Linked DNA regions of Homo sapiens: region 2 is linked to region 1. The links come from fine-mapping of genetic effects on gene expression. A gene starts in region 1. The other region holds a variant in brackets. All regions are shown on one strand. Distances are from middle to middle.

Evidence for each region.
Region 2: its variant is fine-mapped to the expression of TEF in whole blood (TOPMed, PIP 0.96).

What each region holds. Positions count from the first base shown.
Region 1 is chr22:41,377,824-41,386,146 of GRCh38, reverse strand. TEF (TEF transcription factor, PAR bZIP family member) reads right to left here and starts at 4,205. Exons shown (of 4, transcript NM_003216.4): 1 at 3,946-4,205. The coding sequence starts at 4,102. LOC105373042 (a long non-coding RNA gene) reads left to right here and starts at 4,236. Exons shown (of 3, transcript XR_938271.3): 1 at 4,236-4,407. RefSeq lists enhancers at 3,367-3,446, 4,228-4,522 and silencers at 3,657-4,356, 4,387-4,986.
Region 2 is chr22:41,332,292-41,340,614 of GRCh38, reverse strand. It overlaps ZC3H7B (zinc finger CCCH-type containing 7B), which reads right to left. Exons shown (of 23, transcript NM_017590.6): 8 at 2,260-2,302; 9 at 1,424-1,614; 10 at 478-799. Among named protein-coding and RNA genes, the nearest start is that of ZC3H7B, 35 kb to the right of the region's middle. The variant C/T (reference allele first, on the strand shown) is at 3,357.

The sequences.
Region 1 (8,323 bases):
TTCAGAATAGCCTGTAGCACTGGCCAGGTGCGGGGGGGTCAGGATTGCAATCCCAGTACTTTGAGAGGCCCAGGCGAGTGGATCCCGAGGTCAGGAGTTTGAGACCAGCCAGGCCAACATGATGAAACCCTGTCTCTCCTAAAAATACAAAAATTAGCCAGGTACCGGGGGCGGTGGCTCACACCTGTAATCCCAGCACTTTGGGAGGCTGAGGCGGGTGGATCACCTGAGGTCAGGAGTTTGAGACCAGCCTGGCCAACATGGTGAAACCCTGTCTTTACTAAAAATACAAAAATTAGTTGGGTGTGGTGGTGGGCGCCTGTAATCCCAGCTACTCAGGAGGCTGAGACAGGAGAATCACTTGAACCTGACAGGCAGAGGTTGCAGTGAGCCAAGATCATGCCACTGTACCCCAAGTCTGGGCCACAAAGAGTGAAACTCCGTCACAAAAAAACAAAAACAAAAACAGAATAGGCTGTAGGATTAGCATCTGCAGGAGAGAGACTACAAGGAGGGAAATGGAGTCTCTGACCTTTCCTGATACCTTAGCTTAGAAAGGGCTGAGATCTTCAGGCCAAGAACTTCTGTGTTCCCCTGTCCTGTTCCCTCCAGTTATGCTTCTCCACAGCAACCCAGCCCAGGGAGGAGTCCCATTTTTGCCACTTGCTGTTTGATGTGTGACCTTAGCCATGTTACTTAACCTCTCTGAGCCTTGGTATCCTCCACTGTACATAAGGATAAAGATGTTTCTTTGGTGAAGATTAGAAATAACTTTTTTTTTTTTATGAGAAGGAGTTTCGCTCTTGTTGCCCAGACTGGAGTGCAATGGCGCGGTCTCAGCTCACCACAACCTTCGCCTCCCGTGTTCAAGCGATTCTCCTGCCTCAGCCTCCCAAGTAGCTGGGATTACAGGCATGCGCTACCATGCCCGGCTAATTTTGTTTTAGTAGAGACAGGGTTTCTCCATGTTGGTCAGGCTTGTCTTGAACTCCCGACCTCAGGTGATCCATCCACCTTGGCCTCCCAAAGTGCTGGGATTACAGGCATAAGCCACAGGGCCTGGCCAGAGATAACATTTGAAAGTGTCTTTACAGCCATGCGCAGTGGGATCACGCCTGTATCCTAGCACTTTGGGAGTCCGAGGCGGGCAAATCACCTGAGGTCAGGAGTTTGAGACCAGTCTGACCAACATGGTGAAACCCCGTCTCTACTAAAAATACAAAAAATCAGTCAGGAATAGTGGTGCATGCCTGTAATCCCAGCTACTTGGGAGGCTGAGGCAGGAGAATTGCTTGAACCTTGGAGGCGGAGGTTTGTAATGAGACGAGACTGTACCACTACACTCCAGCCTGGACAACGAGGGCGAAAGTCTGTCTCGAAAGAAAAAAAAAGTGTCTTTACAGTGTTCCTGGCACACTGTAGGCATCATTGTTACTGTGGGCTCACTGAAAGTATGAACTGATTTATTTCCAGATCTCAAGGGCCCAACAAGGGGTAGGCAGACGGTGGACTATGGGAAAATATATATACTAACTGTAGAATATTGGATTTGCAAACAGATTCAGGTTAGGTTTATTAGAAAGGGCCTGGAGCTGTCTTTTCAGGACCCTTTTCAGAGCAACCATTTCAAGAGACCTTTATTCCTGAATAAGCAGAAAAGACTGAAGGCAGGTTTTCTGGGAGGAAGGAGAGGGGTGGAGTTGAAGAAGAAAGACTGCTCCTATTCAAAGGAAAACTAATCAATTAGTGGGGACTGGATCTACCCAATTGTCTCAGTCACAAAGTTACACATGTGGATATCCAAGAGAGGGCAATTAAAAAAAGAGAAGAGAGCAATGTGACAAGGTTGGAAGGAAATCAAAGTGACAGGGAGGCTAATCAGGGAAGTGGGAGATAAAATCATGACAAGCTCATGATGGGTTTTCAAAATTGAGGGAGACAATTTTGAACTCTGGATTTATAAGTGAAAAGGAGAAATCAAATATGATTAAGTTGGAAATAAACCAGCCACACATGGACTCCCAGACCAAATAGCAGCTTGTTGGTCCAATAAAAATGAACACACCCAGTGAGTTAAGAAGGTGGAGGTTTTGACAAACAACTTGGTCATGGCTTTCTAATACAAATTAATCTGAATTCCTGCAACTGCTTTCTATACCAGGCTTTGGTTTAAAACCAACTGAGAAGTAAGAAAGTCAAGCCTTGGTGGGCTGGGTGGGCCAGATGGCCTTCCTGCTCTCCTCCCTTGAGATCTGGACTCCTCACTCTGTTCAGAAATGACTGTGACCCATGTCGGGTGGGGTCATTTGGGATCAAAGGAGGCAGGAGAAGGCAGGAGATAGAAAAGCAGCCATAGTGAAAGACAGGCAACAATAAGTTCCAGGTTTTGCCTGGCCTAAGCAATAAAGGATACTTTAAATCAGTGTTTTTGTAAGGTGGAATTTTAAATTGTAAGAGATAAAGGACTAGTCCATCACTCAGGTCATGCAACAGTGGCTGCCAGCATGATACAGTAGAAAGAGCACCAAACTGAGGGTCAAAAGTTATAGCTGTGTGACCTTGAGGAAGCACCCTCACCTCCCTGAGCCTCAATTTTCCTCATCTGGGAAGAGGGGAGAATACCCTCTAGGACTGTTAATGAAATAAGATGATGTCAGCGTGCTTTGCGAGCACTCTACGAATATCGGGTAGAATTCTTGTTATGGATGGTTATTACCTGGTAATTTCAAACAAGAAACTGTCAGATGTGTACACCTGTCCCTGCAGCTTGTCTCAGCCCCAGATTTGGAACAAAGCACCGTCTCAAAAACAAACAAAAGGGTTTGTGCACATGAGGTCCCAAAGCAGGAGGAGAGAGGCTGGCCTCACCTGATGTGCTGAAGCTATTTATAACTCAACAGTGACAGCCACAGGGATGGGAGCCTCAGCATACACCCAGGAAAGGAAGAGAAATGGCATTTTAAAAAGGAAAATCCATTCCCCAGGCCAGACAACTCTCGAAGGCCTATCCCTTTCCCAAACCCTGAATAACTGATGGCTCTTGGAAATGCAAAGGTCTCACACTCAAAGTATACCTCAGTGCACCCACAACCCCACCACAGGCGGCCCTCCTGCTGCTCCCTGCACCCCATCTCCCAGGGCGAAAAACAAGGCCAGACCTGCTTTCCGTATACGCCCCAGTGACGTTCCTGGCCTAGGCAAAAAGATGAAGCTCAGTCCTGCCGCCGTGGCCCCAGAATCTAAGGGTCAGCCCCAACCAACCAGGCGAAGGGCCTCAGTGGACTCATCTGACCCTCATCGTTTCTCTGCTTGGCCCAAAACTCCCCTCCCAAGGCGCCTCACACTACTCGCCCACACCCCCCCCACCCGCTCAGCAGAAGCCCCGCAACAGAAAGGCTCCCGTTGGACCTAGTAGCTGGCGCTACTCACACCCAGGGAGGAAGCCAGGTCCCTCCGGGAGGGGTAAGGCCACGTACGATGACAGTTCGCTACCCTAGGCCTGCGCTTCCTAAACTTTGGTGTACTTGGAAAATAATGGGGGTGCGGTGGGGTGCTCCTTAAAATGCAAGACCCCTGTCCCAGTGACCGCAGATTGGGTGGGGCGCAGGAACCAGCAATTTAAACAGGCATCCCGAGTGACTCCGATGCAGGTGGCCCCGGGGGAGGGGCCCTGGAGCGTCATTTAAGTGACTGCTCCCGATCCCCTTCCGCCTCCTCAAAACCTCTCCCCACCCTCTCCCGCCAGACCCACCGTCTCAGCCCGCCCCTGACCCTCTGTCCTCAGCCCCCCGGCCTCGTCCTCCAGGCTCCTGGTCATCCAGGCCCCATCCCCCTCCGCTGGACCACTGCTCCCTGACCCACTGCCTCCCCGGCCCCGCCCTCACGAGGCCCCGCCCCTGTATAAGCCCCGCCCCCAGCCCGCGCGGACCACCCCCCCGCCCTCACCGAGGCGCGCCTCGCGCGGGGGGTTCTCCATCAGCTTCTTCAGGACCAGGGGGAAGGACCCCGACAGGCCCCTTTCCCCAGCTGCGCGCCCCGGCCCCGGACCGGGTCCTGCCTGCGGGTCCACAGGCGGCTTCTTTCCGCCGCCCGCGTCGGACATCGTGCCCCGGACTCGGCTCGCGCACCTCGCCTCCCCCGCCCGCCCCCCGAGATGGGCCGGAGCCGTGCGACCCGCTGCAGCTGCCGACACGGGCAGCTACTGCGCAGGCGCCCAATGGCGCCCCCGCCTCCTTCCATCGCTACCCCGCCTGCGGACCGGCTCTGGCACATTAATTATTCATGAGGCCAGGCCAGCTTCCCCGGATCGTTGCTCTGGATTGGTCCAGCCTGCGAGAGGGGCAGGCGCAGATCCTCGGGCCGTGATTGGTCGGGCAGCCGGGATAAGATAGACACGTGCGGGGCCAGGTGAGGACCCTCGCGGAGGCCCCGCCCCGCCGCCCCTGTGTCCCCTGATTGGCGCCTGCTGGAGTCTTTGTGGTGGGCCTTCCTCGGCGCGGTCCCTTCCCTCCTACCAGTGTTCCCCCTTCACCGCCCTCTTCATAACCCCCGCCCTCCCCAACCACCGCAGCCTCTCCCTCTTGTCCCCGACTTGCAACCTTCCCGACGCGCCACCGAAGAGGGGCGGAGCTCGGAGCGGCCAGGCCGGCCAAAGCGACCTATCCGAGCTCCTGCTCGCGCGGCGTGTCCACCCCCCGCGGGTCACGTGGAGCCGCAGCCGAGTCTGGTCGCGGGGGGAGGGGGCAGAGGAGGAAGGCGCGGGAACAGCCAATGGAGGGCGGGGGCGGGGCCCGGGGCGGTGCACGAGGCGCCGCACGTGCGGGGCTGTGGCGGGGCGGGAGGGGAAGGGAGGGACGGGTCTTTTTGTTCTGGGGACTCTGCCCAGGGTCGCGGGGCAGGGACGCTGAGCTTAGCCCGCACTTCTGCTCCCACGCGACCCAGAGGTCGCCTGAGGGCAGGGCCGGGGACCGCGACCTGCCAAGTCGTAGGGATGGCCTGAGCAGGCTTGGCCGCCCTAGAGCGGGGTGTCGGGTTGCCCACGCATCCAGATCAACACTAGCGTGGAGGGAGCATTCCTGAAGCTCTGACCTGAGCCAGGGCCCGAGTACATGTTTCCGCCCTCCCACTTACTAGCTTATGACCTTGGGAAAGTCCGGTTGCTTCACTGGAGCTTGTTTCCTCGGCCATAAAATTAAGAGGTTGGGCTAGAGAATCTCCACAGTCCCAAACAGATGTGAAATTCTTTTCCTTTCTAGAACTCTCCCTTCTTTTACCTAGAAAACAAAAACCTCCTTGACACCAGGTACCGATGCCACGTTTTGTGGGAGAACCACCTCCTCTCTTAAAATATAAAGCCTCCCCGGGAGTTCCGCAGAAATCCGTAAAAATGTAATATGTGGCGCGGTACACAAATGGAAAGCTGCTCCTAAACAGCGCTCAGAACTTTGTACCTCTTTATAGTACAGATCAGACTCCGCTGCAAACCCAGGCAACATTAGACTCCCCGCTTAACTCCCGGAAGGCAGAGAGCTTGGCTTGTTTATCCAGCATCCCTACAGTGGCCCAGCCCTTCTAGCAGGAGGGGTTGGGGGGGTGGTATAGTGATAGTCCTTGGTTCAGGGGGTAGATGCATGATCCAGACACCCACAGCCAGCTAAAAGTTATCAAGCTGATGCAATCAGAATTTTGCTGGGGCTGGGCTTGGTGACTCACGCCTGTAATCCCGGCACTTTGGGAGGCAGAGGTGGCGGATCACCTGAGGTCAGGAGTTCGAGACCAGCCTGGCCAACAGGGCGAAACTCCGACACTACTGTAAGTACAGAAATAATTAGACGGGCATGGTGGCTGGCGCCTGTAATCCCAGGTACTGGGGAAGCTGAGGCACGAGAATCGGTTTGAACCTGGGAGGTGGAGGTTTCAGGGAGCCGAGATCGCGCCACTGCAGTCAAGCCTGGGCGACAGAGGGAGACTCCATGTCAAAAAAATAAATAAATAAAAATAATTTTGCGGCGGGGTAAGGAGGAAAAAGAAGTTGGGTAGCTGACCAGGCCTGGAAAGCAAGAGATTTGAAGGACTTTGGGTGGTGGTAGAGACAGGATGATAGGTCTGATTCCAAAATTCAAGCTCTCACTGCCACTGTAATTGAACCTCAGTCATTTTCTGAATCTGATGCCTCGATTGCTTTACCTTTTCAGGCCTCCTTTTCTTTTTATTTTCTTTTCTTTTCTTTTCTTTTTTTCTTTTTTTTTTTTTTGAGACGGAGTTTTGCTGTTGTTGCCCAGGCTGGAGTGCAATGGCGCGATCTCGGCTCACCGCAACCTCCGCCTCCCAGGTTCAAGCGATTCTCCTGCCTCAGCTTCCCGAATAGCTGGGATTACAGGCATGCGTCACCACGCCCGGCTAATTTTGTATTTTTAGTAGAGACGGGGTTAATTTTGTATTTTTGGTAGAGACGGGGTTTCTCCATGTTGGTCAGGCTGGTCTCGAACTCCTGACCTCCGGTGATCCACCCGCCTCGGCATCCCAAAGTGCTGGGATTACAGGCGTGAGCCACCGCACCCAGCGTTTTTTCCTTTTATGCCAAATGGAGTTAGGGCAGGCTCTACCTTATGGTGTTTTTGTTTTTTGTTTTTTGTTTTTGAGACGGAGTTTTGCCCTTGTTGCCCAGGCTGGAGTGCAATGGCGGGATCTCGGCTCACTGCAACCTCTGCCTCCTGAGTTCAAGCGATTCTCCTGCCTCAGCCTCCTGAGTAGCTGGGATTGCAGGCGTGCACCACCACGTACGGCTAATTTTTTTTTTCTTTTTTCCGAGACAGAGTCTCACTCTGTAGCCCAGGCTGGAGTGCAAATGGCGGGATCTCGGTTCACTGCAAGCGCTGCCTCCCGGCTTCCCGCCATTCTCCTGCCTCAGCCTCCGGAGTAGCTGGGACTACAGGAGCCCGCCACCGTGCCCGCCTAATTTTTTGTATTTTCTATAGAGACGGGGTTTTACCACATTGGCCAGGCTGGTCTCGAACTCCTGACCTCAGGTGATCCACCCGCGTCTCCCAAAGTGCTGGGATTACAGGCGTGAGCCACCGCGCCTGGCCTACCTTACGGGGTTTCTGTGAGCCAATTTGCGTAGGCGCACAGTTGCAAACCTTCAACAAATTTAGTTTTCATAATTTTACTAAAACTGGTTGGCATATCCATTATCCCAGAGGTTAGTGTGGTGCCTGTGTCACTCTCTGTAGTGAAAATAGTTAATTGTGTACAGAAAATTTGTTGTGTTGTAGAATTGTTAGTGAGAATTCTGTGTGTGGCGAAACTTAAACACCTTTAGGGGAAGCTAACCTAGACAAAGGACATTCCAAGGAAACTGATTAAACCAATACAGGGCTGGGCGTGGTGGCTCACCCATGTAATCCCAGCACTTTGGGAGGCTGAGGCAGGCGGATCACCTGAGGTCAGGAGTTCGAGACCAGCCTGGCCAACGTGGTGAAACCCTGTCTCTATTAAGAATATAGCCGGGCACAGTGGCTCACGCCTGTAATCCCAGCACTTTGGGAGGCCGAGCCGGGAGGATCACAAGATCAGGAGATCGAGACCATACTGGCTGACAGTGAAACCCTGTCTCTACTAAAAAATACAAAAAATTAGCTGGGTGTGGTGGCGGGCACCTGTAGTCCCAGCAACTCGGGAGGTTGAAGCAGGAGAATGGCGTGAACCCGGGAGGCGGAGCTTGCAGTGAGCCGAGATCACGCCACTGCACTCCAGCCTGAGCGACAGAGCGAGACTCCCTCTCAAAAAAAAAAAAAAAAAAAAGGCAAAAGTTAGCTGGGCGTGGTGGCGAGTGCCTGTAATCCCAGCTACTCGGGAGGCTGAGGCAGGAGAATTGCTTGAACGTGGGAGGCGGAGGTTGCAGTGAGCCGAGATCGTGCCACTGCACTCCAGCCTGTGGGACAGAATGAGACTCTGTCTCAAAAAAAAAAAAAAAAAAAAAGGAAGCTAAGGAAGCTTTTTAAAAAACCTGCTAGTTTGGCCATGAGGAGACTTGATGGCTTAGAATCATACCTATATAGTCTCATGGCTAATACGACATTATTGCTGGGAAGAAAAACCCATTCTCAAAGTATTAGACAATGATTAATGATAACAGTGGAAGGTTCTAACACGTGTTTATGAGAAAGATGGGATGTAGTAAGAGGAAGTAAAGATTTAGATTTTCTTTTTTTAGCTGTAGTTATCCAAAACGAATAATGCCTACTCCACTCATCTCCCAGCCTGGAGCAGCTACCCTAACAGGCAAGTGACGCTGGTGAGAAGTGAGACCAGCGGGTTAAGC
Region 2 (8,323 bases), 46 kb after region 1:
TTAAGCCCTCTCAGTCGAGTGCCCTGGGCTGTGTCCGACTGCCGAAAGCTAGCCCCACCAGCGCCCAGACAAGACGGCTTCCTCCCTGGGTCCCTGGCACCCAGCCCAGAGTGGTGCAGTGGGAGGCCATGACCTTGTGCTCCGCCCCCAGCCTCAGGATCATCCCATGGGATCTCACCAGCCTGGTGACCCAGGGTCCCGGGAGGCTGGGCAGGGAGCACCAGACTGGGAGTCTAGAGGCCTGGACTGTCGCAGCTCTCCTCTGCTTGATCTTGAACAAGACACCCACCCCTCAGGCCCAGCCCCACACTGTGCTGAGCACTGCAGAGACGGCAACACACAGACATGGCCTGGGATTGCTAAGGAGTGATGGGGACAAACAGATCTGTAACTCAACTCCACTCTCCAGGCACCAAAGAGGCCACAGCACTGTGCAACCTGTCCAGGGAGGTTGAACGGGCCCACCCATGGCCTTACCCATGAAGGAGTCAGGTTTGTCCAGGGAGCCTCGTGTCGACCCAAAGCTGTCGAGTGCATCCAGCCGGGTCTCCGAGTACGGCAGCAGGTCCAGGGGGTCCAGCGTGGGGCCCGGGGGATCGAGGGCATCCAGCACAGAGGCGGCCAGCTTCTTGGAGGGGTCCATGACCAAGCCGAAGGAGGCGGGGGGCAGTGGGCTGGAGACAGGGATGGAGCCACCCACCACAGGTGGTAGCAGTGGGGTCCCGCCGGGGAACACGGGTATCAGCTGGGGCAACTCACTAGGCACGCCGCTGCCAGACAGGCCACCCTGGACCAGAGACTATGAGGCAGGGACAGAGGGAGGGGTCAGAGGAAAACAGGACTGCCCAGGCCTGGGCAGCATCAGGACTTGGGGAAGCAAGGAGACCTGCACCCTGTCGCCTGGCTTCATCCTGTCCCATGTGGGAGCAGGGCTCACTATGGTCCCTTCTGGCCAGACATTGTGCAGCTTCATTTCTTTTTTTTTTTTTGAGACGGAGTCTTGCTCCACTGCCCAGGCTGGAGTGCAGTGGTGTGATCTCGGCTCACTGCAACCTCCGCCTCCCGGGTTCAAGCGATTCTCCGGCCTCAGCCTCCTGAGGAGCTGAGACCACAGGCATGTGCCACCATGCCCGGCTAATTTTTGTATTTTTAGTAGAGAGGGGGTTTCACCACGTTGGCCAGGCTGGTCTCGAATTCCTGACCTCAAGTAATCCGCTGCCTTGGCCTCCCAAAGTATTGGGATTACAGGCGTGAGCCACCGTGCCCAGTGTGCAGCTTCATTTCTGTACCAAACAAGTCCCTACTGAGGCCTCCTCCTGAGACACATGACATGAGCATTGGGGCCTTCCCTCCACCCCTGGGACAATGGGGACACAGCGGGGAGAGGGGATCAGGGGAGCACAAGGAGGGTGGTGTGGCTCACCAGCGAGTCCAGGAGGGTGTCCAGCTCTGGGCCAAAGACATCCCCGTCTGAGAAGTCATCCAGGCTGTCGGTGCTGGGGAGGGTCCTGCTGCTGTCCAGGGGGGCCAGCAGGTCCAGAACGTGAGGGAACAGGGGCATCGTGGGCGTGGAGGGGAGAAGGGCTGGGGAGCCTCGAGGGTCCACGTAGCAGTCTGCGGATGGGGTGGGCAAGAGCCGAAGGGGAGCACTGCTTGGTGAGGGTGGAGGAGGCGTCCCGGGCCCCGTGATGCTCATCCAACACTTTCCCTTCTTCTTTCAGCTCTTGCCAGGAGCCCTGCCTTCCCCATCGGCTGATCCCACTGGCAGATGCTCAGGGGGTGGTCAAGGAAGGCCACAGCCCCAGAGCAGGGAGGGGCCCTCAGTCCTATGATGTCAATCCTTGGCCCAGGCTCAATGCCTAAATGTCCACCACTGCTGCCTCCTTCTTCTGGGGTAAGCAATGCCCTCTCCAGGGGACACTCTTAAAAGGCAACCTTTTCTGGAAGCCAATGAGGAAGAGGAGGGGAAAGGGCTTTGGAAGAGGTGGGGGTGTGCAGGCAGCCAGGAGTGAAGGCCATGGGACTGTTGCACCTAGCTAAGAGGCAGCACCCCTCTCTGCCAGACTAGAGATGCCCTCCCCTCCTTGAGTGGGTCTGTAGCTCTCAACCCACTGTTTTCTCCCATGCCTCAGGGAGTACCAGGGTGGGGAACCCCTCGGAGGCCCTCCCATCTACAGGGCTGGGATGGGGAGGGGGCTCGACTCCCCTGACCTCTCGGGGCCCCAATTTCCACTTGTTCCCTCGTATCGGGGACATTACCTGTTTCGATGTCATCTATGGACCCCAATCCATTAGAAGTTCCCTGTGGGGAGAGGGCCACAGTGGCGCTGTGGCTGGGAAGGCCCCGATCCCAGCACCCAGCACCAGCCCCTCCCCACGTGACTATGCTGTTGACCCAGCACCGAGGAGCACTTAGAGTGCCAGGGGAGATTAAAGCCCTCACATGCGGCCAGGCGTGGTGGCTTATGCCTATAATCCCAGCACTTGGGGAGGCTGAGGTGGGTGGATCACCTGAGGTCAGAAATTCAAGACCAGCATGGCCAACATGGTGAAACCTCATCTCTACTAAAAATACAAAAATTAGTCGGGCATGGTGGCAGGAGCCTGTAACCCCAGCTACTTGGGAGGCTGAGGCAGGAGAATGGTTTGAACCCAGGAGGTGGATGTTGCAGTGAGCCGAGATCATGCCACTATACTCCAGCCTGGGCAACAGAGCGAGACTCTACCTCAAAAAAAAAAAAAAAAAGCCCTCACACGTGCTGGGTCCTCACCCCTGTGGTGCCCAGCAAGGGGCTGGATGGGCCAGCAGGTGGGGGCATGGGCTCAGTGGATCCCCACAGCTGTCCCTCTAGGGAGGGGTGGTTGAGGGCAGGGAGAGAACCTCTGAGTCTTGGTTCCACCCACCACAGGGCAGGGTCCTCACCCCGGTGAAGGTGGCAAGGGTCTTAGCAAGCCTCCCCCCACAGCACCACAGATGGCCTGCAGTTCAAAGACAAAAGTGCCCCCTCCCTGAGTCCCCAGGCTCTCCTCTCCCACGGTAGCCCCAGGCCCCCCAGGAAGCAGAGAAGGGCATAAACCCAGGTGGGATCCCACTGCCTTCCTGCTGGAGGAAAGCTGGGCCTGAGCAGGCTGTACAACCTGGGCAAAGTTCCCCATCCACTCTGGGCCTGCTTCACTCACCGCTGGGGAAGGCTATCAGGATGAAATGACTTGCTATGTGTGAAGTGCTTAGAACGGGGCCTGGCACACAGGAAGTGCTTTGTGTTTTGGGTTTGTTTTTTTTTTTTGAGACAGAGTCTCACTCTGTTCCCTAAGCTGGAGTGCAGTGGCATGATCTTGGCTCACTGCAACCTCTA[C/T]CTCCCGGGTTCAAGCAATTCTCCTGCCTCAGCCTCCCGAGTAGCTGGAATTACAGGCACCCGTCACCACGCCTGACTAACTTTTTTGTATTTTTATTTTGTATTTTTATTTATTCTTTTTTGAGATGGAGATTTGCTCTTGTTGCCCAGGCTGGAGTGCAATGGTGCGATCTTGGCTTACCGAAACCTCTGCCTCCCAGGTTCAAGCGATTCTCCTGCCTCAGCCTCCCAAGTAGCTGGGATTACAGGCATGCGCCACCATGCCTGGCTAATTTTTGTATTTTTAGTAGAGATGGGGTTTCTCCATGTTGGTCAGGCTGGTCTTGAATTCCGGACCTTAGGTGATCCACCTCCCTCAACCGCCCAAAGTGCTGGGATTACAGGCCTGAGCCACCACACCCAACTTTTTTTTTTTGAGATGGAGTCTCGTTTGGTCACCCAGGCTGCAGTGCAATGGTGTGATCTCAGCTCACTACAACCTCCGACTCCCACATTCAAGTGATTCTCTAATCTCGGCCTCCTGAGTAGCTGGGATTACAGAAGCATGCCACCATGCCCAGCTAATTTTTGAATATATATATATATTTTTTTTCTTTGAGATGGAGTCTCACTCTGTAGCCCAGGCTGGAGTGCAGTGGCACGATCTCAGCTCACTGTAAGCTCCGCCTCCTGGGTTCATGCCATTCTCCTGCCTCAGCCTCCAGACTAGCTGGGACTACAGGCACCCGCCACCACGCCTGGCTAATTTTTTGTATTTTTAGTAGAGATGGGGTTTCACCGTGTTAGCCAGGATGGTCTCGATATCCTGACCTCGTGATCCACCCGCCTCGGCCTCCCAGAGTGCTGGGATTATAGGTGTGAGCCACCGCGCCCAGCTAATTTTTGAATTTTTTAGTAGAGATGGGGTTTCACCATGTTAGCCAGGTTGATCTCAAACTCCTGACTTCAAATGATCCACCCGCCTTGGCCTCCCAATGTGCTGGGATTACTGGCGTGAGCCACCGTGCCCGGCCTGTGTTGATTAGATGCACAGTTTCTGGAAGTTGGGCTGGGAGAGCTGCTGTTTCGTTCAACAGTTCCCACACTCCAACCTCCAGGCTGTGGTGCATCCTTCCCTGTCCTGAACACCCTCCCCTTTTTCTCTGAGTCCTTCACAGTCCAGCTCAAGTCCTGCTTCCCTGGTGAGGCCCTGGGTGGCCCCACCCTTTCTGTGTCCCCACGGAGAGCCGGATGGAGGACCAGACTCCACCACTAGCCTTCCTTTCCCAGGACCAGCAGCCACAGGACCAGCAGCTAGACTCATCCAGCATCCTGCCTCACGCCAGCCCAGGCCAGCATCTCACACCCACTGTGGGGTTTAGCCCTCGGTCCAGGCGCCCTGCGAGGTATCATCCCACGGCATGGAAATGTCAGCCCAGAAAGCTGCTATGCACAGATCAGAGCAGGGCTGTCTGACCCAAGAGCCTGTCCTGACTCTGTCCCCTGGAACTGTACACTCCCCCATCCATACCTGCACCAACACCCTGCACCTCCTTCCCACACCTGAGCCTGCCATAGAGCACATGGCAAATGTGTGCACTTCAGTCTCCGGAGTGTCTGCCCACCATAGATTGGCTGCCAAACCAAGGCCGCCACGCTGGATCACAGAGCTGCTATCCTCATGGTAAGTACATAAAGTCTTTGAGGGAAAGAGAGGTACCAGATGAACATCTCTAGGGAAAGCGGTGATTCTCCCTGCTAGATCCTGCCCATGGCTCCCAGGCCACGCAGGACAAAGTCACCTTCTCAGCCCTCCTGCCCATGCCATCACCCCAGCCTGCCAGGCTCACTGTTCCTGCCCTTCTGCATGGCACTCCTTCTGGTGACATCTGTTTGGCAACAAAGGTCTATGGAGCTCTATCTCTTCTGCAGACGCCCTGCTGGGAGCTTTCACATTGACCCATTGTAATTCTATAACCCCCACAAAATGGCAGGTACCGGACCCCTGCAAAAGAGAAGGAAGCCAAGGCTCTGAGGGGTGGAGTGGCCTGCGTAGATAAGGAGCGTGCTCAGGATCTGATCCAAAGCACGTTCCACTGCAGAGCCCAGGCTATTCCGAGCCCCATAGGAGGAACTGGTCTTGTGATCTGGGGTGTCTGTCTCTTTTGCTGCTTAGCCTTTGTGCAGGCTGTGCTCCTGGTCATGAGTGCCATTTCCCCCTCTCCAGCTCTCCCTTCCTCTTAGTCTTGCTTCCCTGGCTCGCTGAAGCCCTTTCCAACCAAGGCTGCCTTGGGCTCTCTGTTCCTGGAACTCACAGCCCTCCTTGCATCTTGTTCCCCACGATGCCAGGGACAGCTCTTGCACAGACACTGTCTTGCAGGGCCTCTGCCTGGCTCCTAGGTCATAAGAAGCTCCCTGTGGGCACAGCCTGGTCCATCCCCACTTCCAGGTGCACATGTGAAATGACCAGCCGGCTGAATGAATATGGTGCTCATGGTGGAGAACCTACAGGGACCCCTGCAGCCTGCATTTACTTGTGTCTGTGCACAACTCACGGAAGGCCAGGGGCTCTGGCTGGGACACCACCCTGCCCTCATGTGTCCTAGGGCACTCCGTTTGTGCATGTGCACATGTGTGTGCTCACATGTGTGCTGTACCATGTTGGGCAAACTGAGTTCATGAGGCAGGGTCTGAACTGGTCCTCTCCACTGTGGGCTTCTTAGAGCCCTCCCTAACCATGCCCTCCTGACCTCTATGAATGTGCAGGAGGAGCCCAGCAAGATTGCAGGGATGGGTGAACAGCCTGGCAGGGACTGGGGGGGGCCTGGTGCCAGGTATGGCACCATCTGTGGTCATCTGGCTGCAGACTAAGCAAGGCTTTGCGGCCTTGGCCCTGGAGAGCTGGGCATTCAGCCCATATTTGCTGTGGCCCCCTGGCCGCAGTCATTCAATCATTCAACAAATATTTTTTGAGCATCTGCTGTGCCTGCCCAGCCCAGCTCCACTTGCTGTGATGAGACGCTACCTTGGTGCTCTATTCCCAGTGTCTGAACTGACACTGGGTACAAAGCAGTGCTCAATAAATACCTTCCGAATAAATGAATAGAATTAATGCTGCCTCCCCTCAATGCCTTCCCAATGCTAAGACTGAGCTTCTTATCAGGGGTCAAGCGGTCTGGCTTCTATCTCCTGTTCCAGGACCCCCAGCTCTGCCTTGGTGTTGGTTCCTCCCACACTCTGAGCTCCTCCAGGCCTCAGGGCCTTTGCACATACCTTCCACCTGGTCTGGAATGCTGTTTCACCTGCACACCCTGCCCCTAACTCTTCAACCTTCCGGTCTCAGCTTAAATGTCACTGAATCCTGTCTAAATCAGGGCTCCCAGTCTCAATGGCCCAGGTCTCCCCATACTCTGCCTTCACAGCCCTCATCACAGTTTGAAACCAGAAATGATCTGCCTAATGTCCTAATGTCCATCCTAGACTGTGAGCTCTTTGAGGGCAGGAAACAGATTTGTTTTGTTTATCACATACCCAACCCCAAGCTCAGTGCTTGGCCCATACTGGGTAAACTTAGACAAATCACCTTTCATTCATTTAATGTTTTCTCGTTGGAGCACCTGGTATGTGCCAGGCCTAATAATTTCTTTTATTTTTCAGATGGAGTCTCATTCTGTCTCTCAGGCTGGAGTGTAATGGCGCGATCTCGGCTCACTGCAAACTGTGCCTCCTGGGTTCAAGTGATTCTCCTGCCTCAGCCTCCCAAGTAGCTGGAACTACAGGCACATGCCACCATGCCCGGCTAATTTTTGTATTTTTGGCAGGGATGGGGTTTCATTATGTTGGCCAGGCTGGTCTTTAACTCCCGAAATTAAGTGATCACCCACCTCGGCCTCCCAAATTGCTGGGATTACAGGCATGAGCCACCATGCCTGACCTATAATTTCTGATTATAAACCATGAGTGCTACAAAGGCAGATCATCAACTGCCTACTTTGCAGGCTGGGAGGTCCCTGAGGGCAAGGACGCAGCTCTCTCAGGCCCAGGGCCGAGAGTGTTTTGTGGGCCTCCTTATGGAATGAATGAAAGAAAGTGCTGCAAAGCTCTGGAGGAGGGAGGCCTGCTGCTGCCTCGCTGTGTGACACTGGCCCCGTCCCCTCCCCACTCTGTGCCTCAGTTTCCCTTAATGTACAAGGTGGCAGGACCCCAGGCTCCATCAGTGCTCTTATAGCCCATCTCTCACTTTCCAGAAAGCCTCAAAGTCTACCTGAGCAGCGGGCAGGGGTCTCAGTCGTGTGCCAGGCCCTGCCTCACCCCCCTGGGATGAGCCAGGCCTGACTGGGGTGCACAAGTGTCTTGGCCCTTGGGAGGAGTCCCCAACTCAGGACAGCACAGCAGCTATCCACAGTGACTGCCCACTGCATTTCCTGCTGGGTCGTGTGTGCCAGGTTATCAAGCACTTTCCTCCCTTGTTCCCGTTGAGGGATGGTCCGCATTTCAGAATGCAGAAACTGAAGGACCTGCCCAAGGCTGCAGGGCCCAGTTGGGCTCTTCCTTGTCAGAGTCCTCAGTCTCGGCTGCCCCTCCCAAGCAGAGTCACTGAGCCAGGGAGAGCAGGATGGGTTTCGGCAGGGGCATGCCCTTGAGCTGGGCTTTGAAAAGCGAAAAGACAGAGAAAGGCAGGGTGGGGAAGAGGAAGACATTTGAGGCCCAGGGGCCTGAACCTGCAGAAAGGCTGGTGAGAAAAAAGGCAACACAGCAGGAAATGTGGGGCAGGAGGCAGAAGGAAGGCGTGTGGGACCAGGCTGCCCAGACTGTGTCCTGGCCAGGGTTCAAGAGTGAGGCTGCCCCCGGCGGCTCCCCGGCAATGACCACTCCCTGCCAACAGCAGCCATGGCCTGTCCCCACATCCTGCCCCCGTGGACACGGGAGGTACCTCCTAGGGAGGCGGAGGCCCCTGGACCCACTGCCTGAGGTCATTTATACCCGGA